Linked DNA regions of Homo sapiens: region 1 is linked to region 2. A link means that fine-mapping ties the variant in region 2 to the plasma level of a protein whose gene starts in the linked region. Region 2 holds a variant in brackets. A gene starts in the other region. All regions are shown on their reverse strands.

Region 1 (9,673 bases), not on the chromosome of region 2:
TTCAACAAACATTTGCACCCGGGACCTTGGAAAATAGAACCGGAGGCAAAGTGGAGATGGTGAGAGGGGATCCAGGAGGAAGCACTCAGGAAAGGGGTCTCACACCTGCTGCGCACCCTGAGCCATGTCACTTCTCCTCCCTGGGCCTCCGTCTCCTCATGTGTGAAGCAAGGGGACCGGCAAGCAGCCTTGCACAGTCCATGAATGTGGTCATTCATCCAGGCTTCCCTGGCCAGCCTGTCTGGGTCTAGCTGTTCTCCCTGCTTCTTCTTGAACCCTTTCTCCTTCCCCAAATCCCCTTTGCCTCTCCCCAGACTGACTCCTACATATTCTGGGCCCTCTATTTATGACAGACCCAAAAGTTACCCTCCTCCCCACCCAGAGTCCCCCACCCCACCCCCATGCACCTGTTAACAGAAGGACTCTGAGAGCCATGGCTGGAAGGAGCCAGAACCTGGAAGGAGGTGAACCAGGGGTTGCAGGCACCACTGAGGAACCACAAGGAAGCCACCAAAGCAAAGAAGGGCAGAAAAGGAGAAGTAGGAGGCAGAAGTCTATCAGAGATTCAAAGGAAGAGGGCGGAGGCTCAGTGAGCACATAGCCCTGCCTGGTCTTCCGCCCAGGACTGCCCACAGCCTGCCCACCCTTCCTCCCCAGCTTCCTGACCCAAACTTTCAAAGTCAATACCACTATCCAAAAGGTGCCATTTGTCACCCACTTGTTTCTTGGGTTGGCCCAAGCATATGAACAAGCTGAACAGACTTAGCCTGCCTCCTGGAATTCGTGTTCTAAACATTAATACGGGCCAGGCGCAGTGGCTCACGCCTGTAATGCCAGCACTTTGGGAGGCCAAGGCAGGAGGATTGCTTGAGCCTGGGAGTTTGAAACCAGCCTGGGCAACATAGAGAGACCCTGTCTCTACAAAAAAATATTTTTAATTAGCTGGGCATGGTGGTGCGCGCCTGTAGCCCCTGCTACTGGACAGGCTGAGGTGTGAGAATTACTTGAGCCCGAGGTCCAGGCTGCAGTGAGCTAGGATCACACCACTGCACTCCAGCCTGGGCAACATAGGGAGACCCCGACTCTACAAAAAAATACATTTAAAAAATTAGCCAGGCATGGTGGCACATGCCTGTAGTCCTAGCTACTCCAGAGGCTGAGGCAGGAGGATTGTTTGAGCTCAGGAGTCTGAGACTGCAATGAGCCTCAATAATGCCACTGCACTCCAGCCCAGGTGACAGAGTGAGACTCTGTCTCAAAAAAAAAATTAAATAAATAAATAAGCAAACATTAATACAGATCAAACAAGTGTAGGAGGTAAAACTCTGTGTCTTCCTGAAAACACACTTTGCAAAATGTCCCTCCTTCAGCCCATGGAAATGGAAGCGCCCTTCAGCCAGAGCTGTCCTCATTTGTAGCCATCAACAAAGACAACTCAAGTACAGGCATACCTGGTGCTTTTTAAATATTATTTTGTGCTTTTTTTAGAGACAGAGTCTAGCTCTGTTGCCCAGGCTGGAGTGCAGTGGTGTAATCACAGCTCACTGCAGCTTCAATCAACCTCCTGGGCTCAAGCGATCCTCCTACCTCAGCCTTCCGAGTAGCTGGTACTACAGGCACATGCTGCCATGGCCAGCTAATTTTTTTTAAATTTTTTGTAGAGACAAGATCTTGCTATGTTGTTCAGGCTATTCTCAACCTCCTGGACTCAAGTGATCCTCCTTCCTCAGCCTCCCAAACTGCTGAGATTACAGGTGTGAGCCACTGCATCCAGCCTATTTTTGTGTGTGTGTGTGTGTGTGTGTGTAAAGGCCTCAAGCTCTTCACCCAAGAATTTTCACTTCTAGTAATTTATCCTAAGAATAGTTAAGAAGTGTAGTCAAAAATATATGTACAAACTTGGCTGGGTGCGGTGGCTCATGCCTGTAATCCTAGCATTTTGGGAGGCTGAGGCGGGGTGGCTCACTTGAGGTCAGCAATTGAAACCAGCCTGCCCAACATGGTGAAACCTCATCTTTACTAAAAAGACAAAAAAATTAGCCAGGCGTGGTGGCAGGCACCTGTAATCCCACCTGGGAGGCTGAGGCAGCAGAATCACTTGAACCCTGGAGGCGGAGGTTGCAGTGAGCAGAGATTGTGCCACTGCACTCCAGCCTAGGCGACAGAGCAAGACTCTTATCTCTAAAAAAAAAAAAATATATATATATATATATATTTGCAAGCTTGTTCATTGCAGCATTATTGTTAATATGAAAAGCTAAAAAAACCTGAATATTCAACAGAGGAATGGTTCAATGATACTTCACTCTGTGATATATCCTTACCCTCCCCTGTGTCTGTCACTTTTAATTCTGTTTTCAAAGGCACAGGAAAATAGGTATCCTTCCACACATACATGGAACACAAACCTCACCTTTATGTGACCGCCAATGTGATTCTCAAGCCAATGATTTTTTTCACTCTTTCTCAACACATTTTCTTTTTTTTTTTTTTTTTTTTTTTGTGAAACGGAGTCTCCCTCTGTCGCCCAGGCTGGAGTGCAGTGGCGTGATCTCAGCTCACTGCAACCTCTGCCTCCCGAGTTCAAGTGATTCTCCTGCCTCAGCCTCCCGAGTAGCTGAGAATACAGGTGCTTGCCACCACGCCTGGCTAATTTTTTGTATTTTCAGTAGAGACAGGGTTTCACCATTCAACACATTTTCTTTTGCCTCTAGTTCTACTTTCCCGATAACTAGATGGAAAAAAATGCTTGCTGGCTGAAAAAAAAAAAAGCAATTAAAATTATGTACATTTGGTTAAAAATTATCTGTTTATAATTTTTATATATAGCCAGGTGTGGTGACTCCTGCTTGTAATCTCAGCACATTGGGAGGCCAAGGCAGAGGGATCATTTGAGCTCAGGAACTCAAGACCAGCCTGGGCAACACAGCAAGACCCTGACTCTACAAAAAAATGTTTAAAAATTAGCTGGGCATAGTGATGCACACCTGTGGTCCCAGCTACTCAACAGGCTGAGGTGGGAGGATCGCTTGAGCCAAGGAGGTTGAGGCTGCAGTGAGATATGATTGCACCACTGCACTCCAGCCTGGAAAACAGAGCCAGACCCTGTCTCTAAAATATATATAGGCAGGGCATGTAATATATACAGGCACGCCTGTAATCCCAGCACTTCGGGAGGCTGAGGTGGGAGGATCACCTGAGATTAGGAGTTCAAGACCAGCCTGGCCAACATGGTGAAACCCCATCTCTACTAAAAATACAACAATTAGCCAGGCGTGGTGGCAGGCACCTGTAATCCTAGTTACTTGGGAGGCTGAGGCAGGAGAATCACTTGAACCTGGGAGGTGGAGGTTGCAGTGAGCTGAGATTGCACCATTGCACTCCAGCCTGGGCAATAGAGCTTGACTCAGTTTCAAAAAATAAAAAATTAAAATTAAATAAATAAGTACATACATACAAAAATAAATCATATATATATATATATATATATATATATATATATATATATATATATGCAGGAAAACCAAATGTTAATAGTCGTTATCTCCAAGATAGGAGGATTACAGGTATGTTCCAGTATCTATTGCTGCAGAGCGAGCTACTCCAAAACTTCATAGTTAAAAACAGCAGCATATTATAATCTCTCGCGTATCTGTGAATCTCCTGGCCTCAGCAGTTCTCAGCGGGGTCTCTCACATGATTGCAGTCGGATCACAACCAGGGCTAGAGTAATCCAAAGCTCAGTTGGGCTGGGCTCCCAAAATGGGTCACTCCCACAGCTGGCAGTTGGCCGTGGGCTAGGAGCTCAGTTGGGGCTGTCACCTGGGCACCCCCACGTGCCCTCTCCATGTGGCTTGGGCTTCTCGCAGCATGGTGGCTGGACTTCAAGAGCAAGTGTTCCAACAGACAGGAAGCAGAAATTTCCAGGCTACTAAGGTCTTGATCTGGAAACTGGCGCCAAGTCATCTGCACCACATTCCATTGATCAGGCAGTCACAGAGCTCATCCACATTCAAGCAAAGGGGACACAGATCCCACCTCCCAATGGGAGGAATTTGTGGTTGTATTCAATCTGCTACAAGATGACTTTAATATTCTTTTCTATATCATTTGTACTTAAAATATTTATATAGGCTGGGTGCAGTGGCTCATGCCTGTGATCCCAATGCTGTGGGAGGCCAAGGCAAGAGGATCACTTGAGCCCAGGAGTTTGAGGCTACAGTGAGCTATGACCTCAACACTGCACTCCAGCCTGGGCAACAGAGCAAGACCATGTCTCAAAGAGAAAAAAAAAAAAGACCTTTATACAAAAAAAAGACTCATAATCATAAAAAATACCAATAGATAATTTAAAACAACAGGTTACCTGTATTTGTTAGCAGGTAAAGAAGCTGAGGAAAGGACGAACGAAGTCATGAGCCCAAGATGAGAAGATACCAACCAGGGTGCCCGGGGAGGAGTTTAGTAGATCAGCTGGGTTTGCTTTGGGAAAAGTTTTCACACTCTGGCCACTATGGGGGCTGCTCGAACTCAGACGTGGAGGCCCCTCCTTGCCCTGAACAGTGGCCAAGGGTCCACTCTCTGTAAAAACATAGGCAAGATCTCAGACTGGCTGTCCAACCTGCAGAGGCTTTCTCAATGAGCCACCACCAAGTGTGCACCTGACCTGGTGACCGTGGGTGGGGACATATCTATAAGCTGTTGGCTGTTCCCTCCTACCTGTCCCCCATCCCCACTCTTGATAAAATCTTAGCTTGATTTCCCCTATAAGTGGACTCTGAGACAAGGCTTCAAGTGTAAGTAATTTATCTGGAAGGTGATTCCGGAAACACTGGTGGGAAAGTGAGGAAAAGAAGGAGCTAATGCCAGGCACAATGGCTCACTGCCTGTAATACCAGCACTTTGGGAGTCCAGAGTGGGAGGATCGCTTGAGCCCAGGAGTTCAAGACCAACCTGGGCAACATAGGAAGATTCTGTCTCTTAAAAAAAATTTTTTTTTAATTATCTAGTGTGGTGGTATGCACATGTAGTCCCAGCTACTCAGGAAGCTGAGGCAGGAGGATCACTTGCACCCAAGGGGTCGAGGTTGCAGTGAGCTATGATCATGCCACCATACACTGTACTCTAGCCTGGGCAACATAATAAGACCCCGTCTCTTAAATTTTTTTAATTAAATAAATAATTAATTAATTAAACATTAATATGTATCAAACAGGTGTGGGAAATCAAACTATCTCCCTGAAAACGCACTTCGCAAAATGTCCCTTGGACATTTTGAGCCCAAGTGTTGGAGGCTGCAGTGAGCCATGATCACACTACTGCACTCCAGCCTGGGCAACAGAGTGAGACCTTGTCTCAAAAAAAAAAAGAAGGAAGAAAGAAAGAGCTTATAAAAGATATGTAATTAAACAAATTACTGGCCGGGCATGATGGCTCACGTTTGTAATCCCAGCACTTTGGGAGGCTGATGTGGGTGGATCACCTGAGATCAGGAGTTCGAGACCAGCCTGGCCAACATGGCAAAACCCGTCTCTGCTAAAAATACAAAAATTAGCCAGACATGGTGGCATGCGCCTGTAGTCCCAGCTACTCGGGTGGCTGAGACAGGAGAATGCTAGGAACCCGGGAGGTGGAGGTTGCAGTGAGCCGAGATCATGCCACTGCACTCCAGCCTGGGCAACAGAGCAAGACTTCATCCTCAAAAAAAAAAAAAAAAAAAAAAAAAAAAAAGATTATTGACCTGGTGCAGTGGCTCACGCCTGTAATCCTAGCACTTTGGGAGGCTGAAGTGGGTGGATCACTTGAGGCCAGGAGTTTGAGACCAGCCTGGCCAACATGGTGAAATCCCATCTCTACAAAAAATACAAAAATTAGCTGGGCATCATGGTGCATGCCTGTAATCCCAGCTGCTCGGGAGGCTGAGGCATGAGAATTGCTTGTACCCGGGAGGCAGAGGTTTCAGTGAACTGAGATTGTGCCACCACACTCCAGCCTGGGCAACAGAGCAACACTCCATCTCAAAAAAAAAAAAAAAAAAAAAAAAAAAAAGAATAGAGAGATATGTCATCTTCATGGATGACAAGACTACAAGACTACAGATGTCAGTACAGATGTCGGTTCTCCATTTAATTACTCAAATTCATTATAATCTCACCCAGCAGAATTTTTCTAGAATTTGACGTGCTGATTCAAAAATTGACTGGACTAGAAAACACACAGCAATAGCCTATAAAGCAATGGGACATACCTTACAATGTCATGTTATTCCATAACAAGTACCCTATCAAAGCAATATTCTAAAGCCACAGTAGGTAAAAGTACAGTGTTGGCTCTGGAATAAGTATATAAGACCCTCGGAAAGAATACAAAATACGTATGTAGAAATCTGGTGTTCCCATCAGAAACAATACATTTCTCCTACTGAAAAAGCAAACAAGACTTTCTTTGATTCCACTCCCCTCATCAACCACTGCCCATTTTTTACTTCCCTTTTGCAAAACTTCTCCAAAGTAGTTGTCTGTGTTGGCTGCACCCTGTTCTACTGCTCACATCCTCCCTTAACCCCATTCCAACCAAGCCTGTGCTCCAACCCGGCACCTACTCCACCTAAACTATTTTTATCAAGGTCACCAAGGCTGCCTGAGTGACTCCAGTGATGAGTTCTGTCTTCATCTTGAGTGACTCAGCAGCAGCTTCTGACACTCGGCCCTCGCTTCCTGGAACTGATTTCTACATCTGTCCTCTGACCCCACACTCTCCTGCTTCCCGCCTACCGCCCATGACCCTCCTTCTCAGTTTCTCTTGCTGATTCTCCTCTTCTCCCAACCTCTTCAGAAGGATCTCAGAGCTCAGTCCTTTGACTGCCTTTTTTCTTTTTTCCAACTCCTGGGTTCAAATGATCCTCCCACCTCAGCCTCCTAAATAGCTGGTACTACAGGCATGCGCCCCCATGTCCAGGTAATTTTTCAATCTTTTTGTAGAGACGGGGTCTCACTAAGTTGCCTAGGCTGGTCTCAAACTCCTAGCCTCAAGCCATCCTCCCACCTCAGCCTCCCAAAGTGCTGGCATTACATGCGTGAGCCACCGTGCCCAGCCGAAGTCAATTTTCAGTACAGCAGTCAGAGGGATTGTTTCAAAACACAAGACATATCATGCCACTCCTCTGCTCAAAACCTTGCAAAGGCTCCCACGTTACTGATAGTAAAAGCCAGTCCTTTCTACAACCTACAAGGACCTGCATGACCTGTCATCCCAACCCCAGCCCTTACCTCTCTGAGCTTACCTCATTTTCTGGGACAGCAGCCACCCTGGCCTCCTTGCCATTCCTCAAACCTGCCAGGCACACCACCACCTGAAGGCCATGGCACTGGCTGTTCCCTCTGATGGAACCAATCTTCCCCCAGGGATCGGCAGGCTCACTGGCCCACCTCCTTCAAACAAGTGGGTTTTGCATCACATGACTCTCTATACTCAACTTCGCAAACCTTCTTTGCCACATTCCTCAACATTTTCCAGTTTTGCTCTCAGGGGAATGAAGGTATCAGGTCTTCATCGTCCCTTTTCCTGCACAGCACCCAGGGTCACGGCTTCTCTCTTCCCAACAAAATCTCCCAGTCCCACCTCTCCAAATTTCCTTCCTTGTCTACACAGACAAATTATCTCCGTCTGAGCTCCTCCAATTTGCTTCGCTCACCACACTCGAAGAAACTTGCTACAGGATCCGCCCTCCTGAGAAAGTTGTGGGAAGAACAAGAATAAAATACTGTTTTTCCATTGCACTGGATTGTCAAGAAAAGTTCCTGTGATCCTGTCAGGCCTCTGAGCCCAAGCTAAGCCATCATATCCCCTGTGACCTGCATGTATACATCCAGATGGCTTGAAGCAACTGAAGATCCACAAAAGAAGTGAAAATAGCCTTAACTGATGACATTCCACCATTGTGATTTGTTTCTGTCCCACCCTAACTGATCAATGTACTTTGTAATCTCCCCCACCCTTAAGAAGGTACTTTGTAATCTCCCCGACCCTTAAGAAGGTTCTTTGTAATTCTCCCCACCCTTGAGAATGTACTTTGTGAGATCCACCCCTGCCCGCAAAACATGGCTTTTCACCCCCTATCCCAAAACCTGTAGGAACTAATGATAATCCACCACCCTTTGCTGACTCTCTTTTCGGACTCAGCCCGCCTGCACCCAGGTGAAATAAACAGCCTTGTTGCTCACACGAAGCCCGTTTGGTGGTCTCTTCACATGGACACGTGAGACAACCCCAGCTACCCAGGAGGCTGAGGTGGGAGAATCACTTGAGCCCAGGAGATTGAGGCTGCAGTGAGCTGATTGCACCACCGCACTCCAGCTTGGGCAACACAGCGAGACCCTGTCTTAAAAAAAAAAAAAAGTAAGAAAAAAAAGTTCCACCTGAGTGTCATCCTCAGCCATCTGGTTAAGCCTTTGGGTCTGGAATCAGACTAAGGGCACTAAAATCCTAGGTCTACGCCGGGTGTGGTGGCTCACACCTGTAATCCCAGCACTTTGGGAGGCTGAGGCAGGTGGATCACCTGAAGTCAGAAGTTTGAAACCAGCCTGGACAATATAGCGAAACCCTGTCTCTACCAAAAATACAAAAATTAGCCGGGAATGGTGGCACATGCCTGTAATCCCAGCTACTCAGGAGGCTGAGGCAAGAAAATCACTTGAACCCAGGAGGCGGAGATTGCAATGAGCCAAGATCACACCACTGCCCTCCAGCCTGGGCAACAGAGCAAGATCTCATCTCAGAAAAAAAAAAAAAAAGAATAAAAATATCCTAGGTCTATAAGTATGCCCTTGAACAACTTACTCTCTGGACCTCACTGTCCTCATCTGGAAAATGGGGGCAATAATTGTACTAACATCTTGGGGTGATTGTGATAGTTAAATGAGATAATAATAGATGTCAAAGTGCATGTAGTCAACATTCGCTGTAATCATTCTACCAACTGTGTTGGGTTGATGGATGACCTGGCCAGCGCACCCTCGATGACACACAGAGGTAGGTGGCTGAAAGCTGCCTGTCGCTCAGTGGGAAGCATTCTGGATGCTTCCCTTGCCACCTCAGTTGTCCATGCAGCAGGCCAAATGTCTGGCAGGCCAAGGAAATTGTTCTACCACAGGCTTTGTGAGTCCCAGGTGTTTCGACCAAGGTCACACAAAGAGCATGGTTGGCCACAGGTGACTTGCAGGGCAGCGACAGCCATTTCACCATCTCTAAGTTCTTGCCTCCCAACCTTGAAAGGAGGAGTTGCTCAGGGCCTAACCTGAGCAGGGCAGGAAACAAAACTACTAATTCCTGGAATAGGCTACTTGGTACTCAGTAAATCTCATGTTCTACTTGTTCTGTTGTTTTTCCCCAAAAGGCCCTAACTGATGTGTGACTTAACAGAGTTTTTGTAAGGGTTAAATTAAATAATGCATGTGAAAAGCTTAGCACAGTGCCTGGCATGTAAGATGCGCCCCCACCGGCAAAGATGATTATTTGTATTGGTGGAGACTAAGGTTCAACTGTTGTAATAAGACCCAAAATCACAGAGGCTTAGCCCAGACAGTCCTGTGATGGCCCCAGCATCAGCATTTGGGGGTTACGGAGGCTCCATGGTGTTGGAGATCCAGGCTCCCTCCAGCAGGTTGCTCTGCCA
Region 2 (9,787 bases):
ACCACCACCTGCCTCTGGTAACAAATATGTTCACATAATTTTGGCTAAAAAAAAAAGTTACAGCCAGGTGCAGTGGCTCACGCCTGTAATCCCAGCACTTTGGGAGGCCAAGGTGGGTGGATCACCTGAGGTCAAGAGTTTGAAACCAGCCTGGCCAACACGGTGAAACCCGGTCTCTATTAAAAATACAAAAATTAGCCCGTGGCTGCTCACGCCTGTAATCTCACGATTTTGGGAGGCCTGAGGTGTGAGGACCACTTGAAGCTAAGAGTTGGAGACCAGCCTGGGCAACAGAGCGAGATTTGTCTCTACAACAACAAGGCCAGGTGCGGGGCACACCTGTAATACTAGCACGTTGGGAGGCCGAAGCGGGCAGATCACAAGGTCAGGAGATCGAGACCATGCCGGCCAACATGGTGAAACTCTGTCTCTACTAAAAATACAAAAAATTAGCCAGGTCTGGTGGCGTGTGCCTGTAGTCCCAGCTACTTGGGAGGCTGAGGCAGGAGAATTGCTTGAACCCAGGAGGCAGAGGTTGCAGTGAGCCGAGATCGTGCCACTGCACTCCAGCCTGGTGACAGAGTGAGACTCCATCTCAAAAAAAAACAAAAAAGTTTTTTTAATTAGCTGGATGTGGTGGCACATGCCTATAGTCCCAAGGTACTCAGGAGGCTGAGGTGGGAGGATCCCTTGAGCCCAGGAGTTGGGAGGTTGCAGTGGGCTATGATGGTGCCATTGCACTCCAGCCTGGGTGACAGAGTAAAATCCATCTTAAAAAAAAAAAAAAGGCACTTTGGGAGGCCGAGGCGGGCGGATCACGAGGTCAGGAGATCGAGACCATCCCGGCTAAAACGGTGAAACCCCGTCTCTACTAAAAATACGAAAGGGCCTTCTTATGTGTACCCCATCTGTCCTGTCCGACCAGACAGAAACTTAGTCCTAAAAATAAAAATATTTTTTAAAAAACTTTTTCTGAGATAGAGTTTCACTCTGTCATCGAGGCTGGAATGCAGTGGTGCCATTGTAACTCACTGCAGCCTTGACCTCCTGGGCTCAAGTGATCCTCCTACCTCAGCCTTCCGAGTAGCTGGAACTACAGGCACACACCACCATGCTTAGCTATTTTGTTTTTGTTTTTGTTTTTTGTAGAGATGGGTGTCTTGCTATGTTGCCTAGGCTGGTCTTGAACACCCGGCCTCAAGTCATCCTCCTGCCTTGGCCTCCCAAAGCACTGAGATTACAGGTGTGAGCCACCATTCCTGGCCAAAAAAAAAAAATTTTAATTAGAAAAAAAAGAAAAAAGAAAAATTTGGCTGGGTGCGGTGGCTCACGCCTGTAATCCCAGCACTTTGGGAGGCCAAGACAGGTGGACCACCTGAAGTCAGGAGTTCGAGACCAGCCTGGCCAACATGGCAAAACTGCATCTCTACGAAAAAATACAAAAATTAGCTGGGCGTGGTGGTGCATGCCTGTAATCCCAGCTACTCAGGAGGCTGAGGCAGGAGAATTACTTAAACCTGAGAAGCAGAGGTTGCAGTGAGCCGAGATCATGCCATTGCACTCCAGCCTGGGCGACACAGCGAGACTGACGAAAGAAAAGAAAAGAAAAGAAAGGAAAGGTAACATAAGGTAAGGTAAGGAAAGGAAAGGAAGAAAGAAAAAAGAAAAGAAAAGAAAGAAAAAGGAAAGAAAGGAAGAAAGAAAGGAGGCAGGGAGGGAAGGAGGGAGGGAGGGAAAGAGAGATAGAAAGGAAGGAAGGAAGGAAAAGAAAATTGTCATGGTGAAATGTTGGGGTTCAGGTCATGGTTGCTGCCCTCCTGGGGCCCACAGTCTGGCAGAGAGAGGAAGAGGTGGTGAGGACAGATAGAGGGTGTGCCCACGTGGTGAGGTCTGACATGAACAATTCTGGAAAAGCAATTCCCCCTCCACGGCATTTCCGGCCTGGGGAGTGGGGTACAGGGAGAGAAAGTAGGCTCTGCCCTGAAGAGACCAATGGGGGTTTGTGCTGGAAAGCAGGGCATGGAGGCAGAGAGGGGCACCTTCCAGCCACTCCCTGATTCTTTTTACGGGGTGTCCCCACCACTAGCCCCCTGAGTGACCACAGGGCAACTCTCTCTGGGGCTCGGTCAGCAAATTGCTGGTGACCTTGGAGCCCAGCTAGGGTTTCCTGGATAGAGCAGCTCCATGGTGATCCCACTTTCCAAAGTCATGTCTTTCAGACAGAGTAGTCTGTTCTTATCAGCCTCCCACCCCTCTCCCCCTGATCCCAGGAAACCCCCTCAGATCCCGAGGGCTTCTTCCTAGGAAGGCTGGGGAGTGTGGGGAAGTCCCCAGGGTGCTCTCCAAAGAAGCGGGGGCAGACAGAGTCTCCTCGTCAGGCCTGTCCCCCAAACCCCATGAGGATTCTTACCTTTCCCGTGTCCCCAGAGTCAGACACAGCTCAAAAGGATGAATGTAGCAGATGCCAACAAAAAGCCCAGAGTTTGGGCCGGGCACGGTGGCTCACTCCTGTAACCCCAGTACTTTGGGAGGCTGAGGCGGGTGGATTATTTGAGGCCAGGAGTTCGAGACCAGCCTGGCCAACATAGGGAAACCCCGTCTCTACCAAAAATTAGCCGGGCATGGTGGTGCATGCCTGTAGTCCCAGCTACTGTGAAGGCTGAGGCATGAGAATCGCTTGAACCTGGGACACGGAGGCTGCAGTGAGCCGAGATCAGGCCACTGCACTCCAGCCTGGGCAATAGAGCGAGACTCCTCTCAAAAACAAATAATAATAATAATAACAACATCTGTCTCCTAGGGTATAGTGGTCAGCTGAGTAACACCTCCCCAAAGATGTCCACATTCTAATCCCGGGAACCTGTGAACAGTTTACCTTACATGGCAAATGGGGCTCTGCAGATGGAATTACGTTAAGGGTCTTGAGATGGGAGATCACTCTGGATTATCCAGGTGGCCCAATGTCATCACAGAGTCCTTACAAGAGGAGGCAGGAGGATGAGAGTCAGAGAGAGATTGGAAGAGGCTGTGCTTCTGGCTGTGAAGATGAAGGAAGAGCAGGACATGTGGGCTCATGCCTGTAATCCCAACGCTTTGGGAAGCCGAGGCAGGAGGATTGCTTAAGGCCGGTAGCTGGGGACCAGCCTGGGCAACATAGCGAGACCCTCGTCTCTACAAGAAAACAATTTTTTTTTTTTTTGAGGTGGAGATCTTGCTCTGTTGCCAGGCTGGAGTGCAGTGGCACGATCTCGGCTCACTGCAACCTCTGCCTCCTGGGTTCAAGTGATTCTCCTGCCTCAGCCTCCCGAGTAGCTGGGATTACAGGCATATGTCACCATGCCCAGCTAATTTTTGTATTTTTAGTGGAGATGGGGTTTCACCATGTTGGCTGGGATGGTCTCGATCTCCTGACCTCGTGACCCGCCCACCTCGGCCTCCAAAAGTGCTGGGATTACAGGCGTGAACCACCACACCCGGCCTACAAAATAATTTTAAAATTAGCTAGGCAGGTGGCATGTGCCTGTGGTCCAAGCTACTCAGGAGGCTGAGGTGGGAGGATCGCCTGAGCCCAGGAGGTCAAGGATGCAGTGAGCCGTGATCATACCACTGCACTGCACTCCAGCCTGGGCAACAGAGTGAGACCATCTCTCCAAAAATAAAACAGAAAGGCAGGCCATTGTCACTGGAGGGGCATACAGAGGGGGCAATACAGAGGAGAAGGTGTCAGCCACACAGGGCCTTGCTGGCTGCCGGATTGGGAGCTGCTTAATTATGTGAGAGATATTTTTCAGGAAATTGCACTAAAAATGCTCCCATTTTTAGAGCCTCCCTATATCTGGCATTGGGCTGAAGGCTTTACGCACACAGCAACCTATGTGAGAGATTTTACAGACGAGGTTATCCCCATTTTACAGATGAGGAAACTGGGGCCCAGAGAGGATTAAGTCACACAGCAGGTAAAGGGGTGCAGCTGGGCTGGGAACCCATGGCCTTTAGTTACCCACATCAGGGGTTACACAGTGGTGGCAGTGACCAGGTGTGTCCAGCAAAGCAGCAGCACCCGCCACTGTCCTGGCAGACCCAGAAACCGGCATGAGATCAGCAGGGACGGAGGAGAAAAACACACGATCCCACACCAAAGTCCCTAGGGGGTCTGGGGGCCTGGGTCCCTGAGGATGAGGTCTGGAGGCCTGGATTCCTGGGTCTTTAAGATATTAAGCCTCACTCACGCCTGTAATCCCAGCACTTTGGGAGGTCGAGGTGGGCGGATCACCTGAGGTCAGGAGTTCAAGACCAGCCTGGCCAACTTGGTGAAACCCCATCTCTACTAAAAATACAAAAATTAGCTCGGTGTGGTCGTGGGTGACTGTAATCCCAGCTACTCGGGAGGCTAAGGCAGGAGAGTCGCCTGAACCTGGGAGGTGGAGGTTGCAGTGAGCGGAGATCGCGCCACTGCACTCCAGCCTGGGCGACAGAGTGAGACTCCATCTCAAAAAAAAAAAAAAGAGGCTAAGCCTGGGTCCCTGAGGATGGGGTCTTGGGGCCTGGCTTCCTGGGTCCCTATGGGGCTGGAGGCTTTGGTCTCTCAGGGATTGAGAGGCTGGAGTCCCAACCTCCTGGGTCCCTGAAGGGCTGGGAATTTGAGTTCCTGAAGATGGGGTTTGGGGGCCTGTCTTCCTGATCCTTAGGGAACTGAGCCTGAGTCCCTGAGGGTGGGGTCTGGGGGCCTGGCTTCCTGGGTCTCCAGGAAGTTGAAGCCCCGGGTCTGTGAGGGTGGAGCCCGGAGTCCAGGATTTCAGAGTCTCTGAGGGCGTTCTTGGAAAGAAATCCCCAAATCTCCCAGGCTGGGCCTGGGCTGCTCTCAGAAGCCTCAGGACCTGCTGGCTCAGCTCTCTGGTCCCTAGAAGTATCCTGGGGCCTTGAGGGGAGGGGGCAGGGAGGCAATGAGTGGTCCAGGACCCCCCTCCTGGAGTTCTGGGGGGCCCTCTGGAGGGAAGGGTGTGGACAACCCCATCTCTGCGTCCCCTCTTAGCCTGAGGACTCCCAGCCACACATACCAGTGCCCCCAAGCTCTCCCCACCCCACTGCCACAATCCACACCAAAAAAACAGCCTAGGTTTGGGCTCCAGATCCCGAGGTTCCCGGAAGACAAAAGTGCACATCCAGGCTCTTCTCATCCCACACACCCCTTTCCTCTTCCTGTTGACTGGCTCTCTGCCTGAGTGGGGGTC[C/G]GGAAGCGGAGGGAAAGGGGTGCATGTGACTGTGATTCAGGGCCGCCCTCCTGGCCCTTCTAGGAGTGGGGCATAGGTCCTGCCCCTGGGGAGCCCCCAGTCCCAGGAGGGGCCCATCCAGTGCAGGAGCTCAAGGCTGGGAAAAGAGGGGGCCTTAGGACTATGGGTGGCAGGGAGGCTTCCATACAAATTGGTGCTGTGGGTTGGCTCAGCACTTTAGGCAGCAGCTGCCCGTGCGAAGGCTTGGAGACAGCCTGGTGTTTCAGAACTGTGTGAAGTTAAGGCACTCTGTGGAGTCTTGGAGGAAGAGGTATGGGCGTGGCTGGAGAGACCAGCTGCCAGGCCTGAGCAGGCAGGACCCTTGAACTCCAGGACATGGGAAGCTGGAGCTTTGGGCCCAGGGCAGAAGGGAGCCATGGATGGTTGTAGGCAGAGAGAAGATATGGGCAGGTGGTTGCCGTTCAGGGAAGACACAGAGGAGGGGTTTCAGGGAGACCCTAAAGGAGGCTGTCATGAAGGTCTGGTGGGGGTGAGGACCCTAAGGGGAGCTCTCATGGGGGCTGGAGTTGGGTAAATAGGGAGTGAGTGTTTCATGGGGACACGGTTTCAGTTTGGGAAGATGAGAAAGTTCCGGAGACGGATGGTGGTAATGGTTGCACAACAGTGTGAATGTGTTTCATGCTCCTGAATGGTGCACTTAGAAATGGCTACGATGGTAAATTTTATGTTATGTATATTTTGCCACAATGAAAACAAAATAAAGCGTGATCTAGGAATCATGTTTTCAAAGCAGCGCTTCTCAACCACGGTGACTCTTTCGGCGACTAGTGGCCAGAGATGCTTCTAAACATCCAACAATGCACAGGACAGCATCCCAGCGAGGAATCATCAGTCCCAAAGTCAACAGTGCAGGGTGGGAGAGACCCAGCTTTGAACACACCTCCTCCTGGAAGCCCCCCTGGATTTGACACACCTACTGCCCTTCCTCCCCACCCCTGCACCCTTTCCTTCTCCCCTTCGTAACCCCAGGAGAGGTTAAACAGGTAGGAAAGCCCAGGGCTGTGTCGGGATGGGGTTAGAGTCAGGGTCGCCAGGCTCCATCTCGTTGGGACACAGCGCCAGGCCCTGTCCCAGGTGTGGGGGTTCTGTGATTAGAGCCGCGGACGTGCCTCCGTCCTGTGCAGAGCAGAGGTTAGGGCTGGGATCAGAGCATCGTGGGGTGAGGGGATCAAGTTGTAGTTGAGCTGGGGTTACGGTCAGGGCCGGGGCTGGGATGAGAGCTCAGCTGGAGATGGTTGAGGGTTGTTGTTGCTGGACACCCTAAACTCCTTCCTGTTGAATTCTGACCTAGGTCAAACGAGGAGCGAGACGCGGCCTCCCCCAACATGCAGAGGATCCCAAATCTGAAAGAAGAACCGACACCCACAGATCTGGGGCCCACATCCGCACAATTTTCTGTTTTTCCCCCGAAGTGAGCAAGAGGCGTATTAATACCGCAGAGGGGAAGCGGGTGGGGCAGTCCCGTGACTGGGTCCTTGGGGCCCCAAAGCATCCTAGTGTTTGAGCTGAGTCTTGGCAGGAACCCAGCAGGCAGGGGGCTTTCACCCCTGGGAAGGACATGATGGGGCCGGTGGGGTTGGGCTGGGGCACCTGGGCTTGTAGAACTCAGAAACACCAAATTCCAGCTGGGCACAGTGACTCATGCCTGTAATCCCAGCACTTTGGGAGGCTGAGGCAGGAGGATCACTTGAGCCCAGGAGTTTGAGACCAGCCTGGGCAACATAGTGAGACCCCATCGCTACCAAAAATTTAAAAAATTAACCAGGCGTGGTGGTGCGTGCCTGTGGTCCCAGCTACTCAGGAGGAGAAAGTAGGAGGATCTCTTGAACCTCAGGAGGTTGAGGCTGCAGTGAGCCGAGATCGCACCACTGCACTCCAGCCTGGGAGACAGAGCGAGACCCTGTCTCTAAAAAAAAATATGGACAATTTTGTTGTATAGTTTAATTTAGTAGCAATGGTTGCTGGGCACAGGAATTTGTTTGTTTGTTTGTTTTTTGGGATCGCCCAGGCTGGAGTGCAATGGCGCAATCTCAGCTCACTGCAACTTCCGCCTCCCAGGTTCAAGCAATTCTCCTGCCTCAGCCTCCCGAGTAGCTGGGATTACAGGCACCTGGAACCACTTCTGGCTAATTTTTGCACTTTTCGGTAGAGACGGGGTTTCACTGTGTTGGCCAGGCTGGTCTCAAACTCCTGACCTCAGGTGATCTACTCGCCTCAGCCTCCCAAAGTGTTGGGATGACAGGTATGAGCCACCACGCCCAGCCGGACACAGTTCTTAGTGACTTGTGTGCATATTAACACATCTAATTTTCACCACCACCCTAGGAATTAGATGCTTTGGTGATCAATGCTGCCTTATGTGAAGCACAGAGAGGTTAGGTGACTTGCCAAAGGTCACACAGCACTTCAATGGAAGAACCAGGAATTTGAACACAGGTAGTGTGGGTCAGGCATCTGCAGCCCTAGCCACTATGCCACCTAGACTTCTATATACTAAGACCCCTTGGCACTTTGCCCACCCTCCTCATCCTTCCCAAAATGTGTCCCCTGATCCTTAACACCCTCCCCACTCTCAACTGGGGAACTCCAAATCCCCACTCCTGGGTGGGCTACCTCCCATGTCTCTCACTCCAGAAGACACCCCCCTGTGCCCCTACAACCCACCTCCCAACCAGGAGGGGGCTGGGCTGGGCCATCCACTAGGGCTGGACGTTCCCACTGTGTCAGGGAGGGGCCTGGCTGAAATGTCCCCTGGACCCTGCACTCCAGAACAGCTGGGACCATGCTGCCTTGTCTGTCACCCTGGACCGAGTGACCCTTGGTGCATGCCTGTTGAGTGAATGACTGACTCTGGTGGTCTGAGGCTGTTCATTTTGGGTCCCAAAATGTCCCCTCCACCTTGATCTGGGGTAATGGCCGAGGACCAAGATGGTAAAGAAGTGAGGGAGGGTCCGGGTGCGGTGGCTCATGCCTGTAATCCCAACACTTCGGGAAGCCGACGTGGGTGGATCACTTGAGACCAGGAGTTCAAGACCAGCCTGGTCAACTTGGTGAAACCCCATCTCTACTACAAATACAAAAAATTAGCCAGGTGTAGTGGCGCGTGCCTGTAATCCCAGGTACTTGGGAGGCTGAGGCAGGAGAATCACTTGAATCCGGGGAGGCAGAGGTTATGGGGAGCTGAGATCATGCCACTGTACTCCAGCCTGGATGACACAGCAAGACTCTGTCTCAAAAAAAGAAAAAAAATCAAAAAGGAAGGGAAAGAGTTGGCCGCTGAGCATTGGAGAGGTGGCTGGGGGCTGCTGAGTGGACATAGGGACAGCATTTGAGGCCAAGCCAGGGTGGGGTCACTGGGGGATTAGTCTTGAGGGCAGGTCGGGTTGGGGATCCTAAGGGGGGGTCTGCCGTGGTGGCCAGGTGGGAGTGAGGACCCTGGAGGGTCTGTTTTGGGGGGCAAGACAGGAGGTAGAGCCCCAGGGAAGGCTGTCATGGGGGCAGGATGAGAGTGGGGAGGCCATGGAGGAGGCAGTCCCAGGGACAAGGCAAACCAGGCAGGGGGAACCCTAAGAGGGGGATGTCACCTGGTCCAGGGGGAAGAGGGAGCAGCTGTGGGGATGGGGAGAAGCAGGTTATTTTTTTGAGACGAGCCAGGCGCGGGTGCTGGGTGAGCGGTGGGGTGGAAGATCGGGAAGTGCTTGGACAAGGCCTGGACCTGGGCCGGGGTGTCTGGGTGGATGGACGGACTGTCCCACCAATGGGGACACACGAGGAGAAGGAGGAGGAAGCTTGGGAATAAGTCCAGCTGGGCCATGTTGTGAGGACATGGGGATGAAGTCTTAGTTCCAGGATGGGGCTGGGATGGAGTTTGGTGTTTCTTTTCTGTTTTTCTTTCTTTTTTCTTTTCTTTTTTTTTTTTGTGAGACAGAGTTTAGCTTTTGTTGCCCAGGCTGGAATGCAATGGCGCGATCTCGGCTCACCGCAACCTCTGCCTCCCGGATTCAAGCGATTCTCCTGCCTCAGCCTCCCGAGTAGCTAGGATTACAGGTGCCCACCACCATGCCCAGCTAATTTTTTTTTTTTTTTTTTTTTTTTTGTATTTTCAGTAGATACAGGGTTTCACCATGTTGGCCTTGAACTCCTGACCTCAGATGATCCACCTGCCTCGGCCTCCCAAAGTGCTGGGATTACAGGCGTGAGCCACTGTGCCCGGTCTCTCTCTCTCTCTTTCTCTCTCTCTTTCTTTCTTTCATCTCACTGTGTTGCCCAGGCTGATCTTGAACTCCTGGGCTCAAGTGATCCACTCACCTCTGCCTCCCCAGTAGCTGGGATCACAGGCATGCACCACCATGCCCTGCTAGTTTTTATAGTTTTTGTAGAGACAACGGCTTGCTATGTTGTCCAGGCTGGTCTTGAACTCCCAGGCTTAAGTGATCCTCCCACCTCAGCCTCCCAAAGTGCTGGGATTACAGGCGTGAGCCACCGTGCCCAGCCAA

Which allele goes with the higher level. Alleles are on the strand shown, and positions count from the first base shown. The strength of an association depends on the size of the effect and on how common the allele is.
In carriers of allele G in region 2, the plasma level of the protein whose gene starts at base 525 in region 1 tends to be higher than with C alone (weak association).

Evidence for each region. PIP is the posterior inclusion probability: the model's chance that the variant is causal. The UK Biobank Pharma Proteomics Project read protein levels with antibody pairs (Olink). The fine-mapping took linkage between variants from a reference panel, not from the people measured, so its PIPs are less certain.
Region 1: it holds the start of ITGAM, and the variant in region 2 is fine-mapped to the plasma level of the ITGAM protein (UK Biobank, PIP above 0.99).

Annotation. Positions count from the first base shown.
Region 1 is chr16:31,250,827-31,260,499 of GRCh38, reverse strand. It overlaps ITGAM (integrin subunit alpha M), which reads right to left and starts at 525. Exons shown (of 30, transcript NM_000632.4): 1 at 408-525. The coding sequence starts at 435. RefSeq lists an enhancer at 669-768.
Region 2 is chr19:7,702,732-7,712,518 of GRCh38, reverse strand. It overlaps LOC105372262 (a long non-coding RNA gene), which reads left to right and starts at 5,285. Exons shown (of 5, transcript XR_936296.2): 1 at 5,285-5,541; 2 at 6,025-6,274; 3 at 6,583-6,702; 4 at 7,617-7,727; 5 at 9,398-9,439. RefSeq lists an enhancer at 6,954-7,023. The variant C/G (reference allele first, on the strand shown) is at 5,232.